Regions from separate parts of the Homo sapiens genome. Here region 1 is linked to region 2. A link means that fine-mapping ties the variant in region 2 to the expression of a gene that starts in the linked region. Tissue or cell type: whole blood. Region 2 holds a variant in brackets; the other region holds the start of a gene. All regions are shown on one strand. Distances are from middle to middle.

Region 1 (2,685 bases), 59 kb after region 2:
AAGGAAAAACTCCAAAATTCATGTATGACATCCAACCTAAGTAATTTCAATCCAGTAATAATAAAGAACAGAGAAGGATGAAAAGAAAGTATTGGAGAAAAATTAAGTATTCCCAAATTGCTCCTCCACCAACATCATTTAAAAGTATGCATCCACTGAGTAATGCAAATGTGTAGAATACCAGAGAAGCCATCTAGCAGCAACAACACAGGCACTGTAATTTTAAACGTTTATATTTGCTTCCTATATTTTTGAAAAATAAAGTTGTAATAACAACGTTTTGAAAATTTCCAAACTCTTCCTTGTATCCCAGAGGTTCCTTTTTTGCTCTTTGGCTTTGGCTTTGACTGGATACTGATTTTACCCTTGGCCATTCTGCACCTAACCTGACTGTGCACTAGGTCCCCTGCCATAACCTGGATGAAGGTCTGGCTGAGCGTCTCTGGGATCCTTTACAGCCCCTCTAATGCATCAGTCGGGAATCAAAAGCGTGGGTCCCAACTCTGACAGTGACTTTTGAAGAGTTACTTGTCCGCACTAGGTCTCAGTCTTCTCATCTGTCAAATGGGAATAACAACTGTACCTATCTCACATCTGTTGTAAGGATTAGATAATATATTTAGAGAGCTTAAAATGTTTAAAATGTCCGCTACTGCTATCATCACTATAATTGTAGTGTTCAATGACTGTGATTTCACCAGAGGGTCCGTCTGCCTTACGAAATTGCTGTCAAAAGAGCTTACCAATAATCCGTAGCAGATCACACCAGCTCAACAGGCCTCCACCTCCAGGAAGCCCTCCAGGGGCGGGCCGCCCTGCGCTATGCCCTCTGGCTGGACGCGTAGGGCTCCGGCTCACTCCGCCCAAGTCAGCCTCCCGCATCCCGCACGCCCGCGCTGGGGCCCGCACCTGCTCAGCAGGCCCTTGGGTGCGAAGTGCGCTTCTCCCGCCCCACCCAGGGCAGACAGTCCCGAGCAACGGCGCCCGCCGATGTCTCCCGGGCGCCCAGGAGGCCCGGTCTCTCCAGGGCGGTGAGTTCAGGTGGCCCGCCCCGCCCCGGCCGGAGAAACCCCGAAGCCCCGCCGCCGCGGACTCCAGGCTGCACAGGCCCCCGGGCGACGCGGGCGTCTCCGGGGCGGGCTGGCAGCCCGAGGCCAGGAGAGCACCCGCGTGTTGGCCTGGACGCTGTGCTAGGGCAGCTCTTACTGTTTCACGTTGTCCCCCAGGGCCTCGCTTAAGTTCTTCTTGGCCGCCTCCAGCTCGCTCACAAAGGTCGCCATTGCTCCGCGTGTCTCAGCCCGACCGCAGACCGCCCGGCCACCGCGATCAACAACCCAAAAACCAACTCGGCGGAAGGCCTTGGCTCTGGAAGCTAAGCCGGCCGCCGTCAGTCCCGCCCCCAATCTCTCAGAAGTCGTTTGTTTGGTTTTCGGCTCCGCCCGCCTTTTCGCAGGGAAGGTGCCCGGCCAAACTCTGCTCTCTTCCTCCCGCCCCTCGAGTCACGTGATCCGCTTCACCTTGTCGCGCGCCCATCCTAAACCCGCGCGCCCCGCCTCGGCTGCAACGTTGCTGACAGGCTGGCGTGTCCCAAGCTCTTTCATTCTGTTACCGCTGGGGCAATTCCGAATTCAGCCTGCTGTTCTTCTGCCTGGAGGAGTACCTTACCCCTCCATTTAAAAAAGTAAATGCAGTATCAGTTTTACTCTTTCCTTGCCTTATTTTTCCCCGAGCACTAACCGTCTCATATGACATTTAGTTGATTTATCTTGTAAATGTTATGGCTCGAGGACAGGAGTTGTGTTTTATTCACTGTTACCCGCAATTCTCTAGAGCAGCGCCTGGCACATAGTGGATGCTTAATAAGTATTTGAGTAAATGAGGTAACTATGTAAAATTTGGAAAATACACAGAAAGATAAAGATAAAAAGAAGGAAAAAGTGTTTTACCACTCCCGGACAAACACTTAACTGAGAGAGATTTCTCCTTCACTTCGCACACTCCCATGACTTAAAATATTCTATGTTCAATTTTGCACGTTTTTAAACTTAAGGATTTATCTGTAGTATTACATTGTCTTTAGAATAATTTTAATGACAACATATTAAATACCCCCACAGATAGAAGGTACACAACTTGTTTCCCAATTGTTAGACTGTGTCCATTTCTTCTCTATTAAAAAGCAATACTGTAATATTGCTTTTGAAGCATATAGCATAATGAAGCAAAACTTCTTTATGCATAAAACTTTTCCTCCTTTAGGATTATTACTTTAGCATAGAGTCCCACACATAGAATTACTGGATCAAATGATGGGAATATTTATAAATGCCTTGGTGTATATTGTCAAATTGCCTCCCAAAGTTTTTTAAATAATCCTAGATAGCTTTTAGATCTTGTGTAATTTCTCCAAAGATGTCCCCTTAAGTTCATTCATTCAACTTCCTCACTGCCCAACCTAAACCCACAAGCCCTGTCCTGGCTGCAATGCCAGCCGGGCACCTTCTCTTCACTTGAATTCATACAGTGAGCTCCTATTATGTGTCTGGAACTCTTTGAGTACTGGAGATACACAGGTGAAAGGAGATACAAAGGTCAGGCAAAGTCTTCCTCTCTGTGTCAAAACTCTGGGTAAGTTTTGACACATTTAAAAAATATCCACTTAAGTTTTCCATGGCTCCCCACGCT
Region 2 (2,685 bases):
AATATTCTGGCCAGAAACCTCTGTGACCATAACACTGTTGCCCAAGTTTTTGTCCTGCGTCCAGGAAGAATGAGGTACAAAGACAAGTAAAAGGTGAACAAGATGAAGATGGGCTCCTCTCTGTAGGCAGGTCATCCAGCAAGTGTTCAGGTCTCAGCAGAGGAAGCCCTGGAGAGGATAGTTCGTCTCTGCAACTGGTCATCCCAATATCTGCAGCCCTCAGCCAAGAAGAGACCCTGGAGAGGGAGAGCATGGTTCCTCTTGCAGGCAGGTCGTCTCTGCAGCTCTCAGAGAGAGGGTAGCTCCTCTCTGATGCTGGTCATTCCATCATCTCTAGCTATCAGCAGAGAGGGTACTCCTCTCTGCAGCTGGTCATCTTGTCCTCTCTCTGCCCTCTTCATCCTCTGGCCATCCTCTGCCCTGCTCTGGCTGAGCCCTGGGCTTTTATGGACCTCAGAGGGGAGGAAGTGAATGCCAGTTGGTCCATGGTTGGCCATGGGCTAGCAGAAGAGGATCCATGAGTCCCCACTCCAGTCCAGGGGACTGGCAGCCCAGCCCCCAGCCTTCAGGCCCTCCCTGGCCTGAAAGTGGAGCCTTACTGGGGACCCATCCACTTCCACCCAGGAATCTGTCTGCCATTCATGCCCCTGGGGCTCGGTCCCAACCCTGCTCTGAGATTGGAGTTGCTGCCGGTAGAGAAGAGGTGGCACCAGGCAGCAGGAGCAGACATTTCTGAGCCAGCAGGGGAAGGCGGGCCATTCCCGGCCTGATGATGCTGGCTGCAGAGATACCCAGGTGCTGCACCTGGGGAGCTCCTGCCCCTGCCCTGCCAACTAGGAAGGGGCAGGGCTCCCGCTTGTCCCCAGCTCCTGCCTGCTCCATGGAGTGGGAGGGCCAGGTCTGCAGCTGAGGGTCAGGCAATTTCAGCTGCACCCCAGAGGGCAGATCCTGCCTGCTCCCAGCCTGCCCCAAGAGCACAGGGAGGCTCGGATCCAGAAACCTCTGTATGGGCAGCTGTAGCCCTGCCCAGGAGGGCGTGTCTTCTGCCTGCTCCATAGAGCAAAAGGCCTGGGTCTGCAGCCTTTTTTTGGGAGGCTGCAGCTGCACCCAGGGAGCTCCTGCCCCAACTCAGAAAAGGCAGGGATTCCGCCAGTTCTATGGAGTGTACAGCCCCTGCTGCAACCAGTGTGATGACAGCAGCCACTGGCATCAGTAATTTTATTAATTATAATTTATATAAAGACATTAACATAAAAGTCCATAGTGAATTTCAGTTCTATTTCCTATCTTCATGGTTTATTTGGTCTCCCCACCATAAGC[T/TG]GGGGGGGGAAAAAGGGTGGTGGAAAACAGTGCCTGAAACCCAATCAATGTTAAGAGTGTGGTCTCAGAGACACCTTGAAGTTATGTGAAGACTAATACCAAATACTGCACTGATAACCTGGCATTCTACTGTCAGGGGCTCTCTCCCTTCAGCTTGAGGCTTATCTAGGAGGAATCCACTTTGCTGCAAATATTTGTTTTAATTATCCTGAACAAAGTTACTACAGAATGTAATATTATGTAATATGATCAAGTAGTTGTAATCTTTAAGACAGGAAATCAACATGGTGATCTGCTCCATTTTCTCCCTGAGGAGGAAAAAAAATGAGAGAAGCTTCCAAGGAAGGTCAGTTAAAGGAGATATGAAAAACCATTTAATTGCACACTTAAAATGGGTGAATTTATGGTATATGAATTATATCTCAATAAAGCTTTTTTAAAAAAAACTATTGAGAAAACCTGTGAGGGAGAAAAAAAAAGGGAGCTATGAAGACAATGACAGATCTTAAGAAATAATTCTAGATTGCCACTAACCTAACAGCTTTCATGGAAATAAACTGTATCATTTTCTCTTCTCTCTTCAATTTGGAATGACTGAATAAAAGTCATTTTATTTCCTTGCCTAGCAAACCTATCCACATTGGTAACTCTAACACCCATTTTTCATAAATATCCAGTACCTGATTCTTTCAGCTGTCCTCCAGTCATGAACCTGCTCATAAGGGCCAGCTGTTACATTTTCAGGCCTTTTGGTCAGTGTTTGTTAAACACAGCCATCAGTAAAAATCAAACTAAACTCAAAATTAAGTAAATTAAATTAAATACATAGGTGATAAATACCCCAAAGTTATCCCTTCCCCTATTACTTTACTACTCTTGTTATTATCTATGCTTTGAAGTGTATTTATATCTATTGAGGTTATTTATGTCTATTGGACAGAAAAAGATCATCCTGTGCAAGAGTCAGGAATGGCAAGAGAAATAGGAAGAAAGGAGGAGGGCATCTGCCACTGTTAGCTACTAGTATTGTTATCACTGCTGCCATTGTTGCTACCAGTAGACACTGAGCCCCACAGTGTATAAGCTATGGCACCCTTAGCAGTTGGCACCCTTCTAAGAGTTCACCCCAAAAGATCTTGCACACCATGGCCCAAGAAAGCCTGGTCACCAACAAGCTAAGAATTCTACAAGGCTCAGAATTTCCAACAAGCTCAGAATTTCCACAAGGTTCTGCTCTGTAGTTTTGGCATTATCTTTTATTTCTCCTTCCAAATATAGCAATAGTGTTTTGCAGCCCCTTAGAATGTGTTGCACTCATCTATTGTAGATGGCAATGGTTTGTCCACCAGCTTGGTTCCCTCCTCT

What was found. PIP is the estimated chance that this variant, and not a neighbour inherited with it, causes the effect.
Region 1: it holds the start of TADA1, and the variant in region 2 is the best candidate, but not a certain one, in a credible set for the expression of TADA1 in whole blood (INTERVAL, PIP 0.62).

The regions. Positions count from the first base shown.
Region 1 is chr1:166,874,954-166,877,638 of GRCh38, forward strand. TADA1 (transcriptional adaptor 1) reads right to left here and starts at 1,311. Exons shown (of 8, transcript NM_053053.4): 1 at 1,207-1,311. The coding sequence starts at 1,280. RefSeq lists silencers at 768-1,167, 1,198-1,247 and an enhancer at 1,648-1,697.
Region 2 is chr1:166,816,081-166,818,765 of GRCh38, forward strand. No RefSeq gene overlaps it. Among named protein-coding and RNA genes, the nearest start is that of POGK, 22 kb to the right of the region's middle. The variant T/TG (reference allele first, on the strand shown) is at 1,321.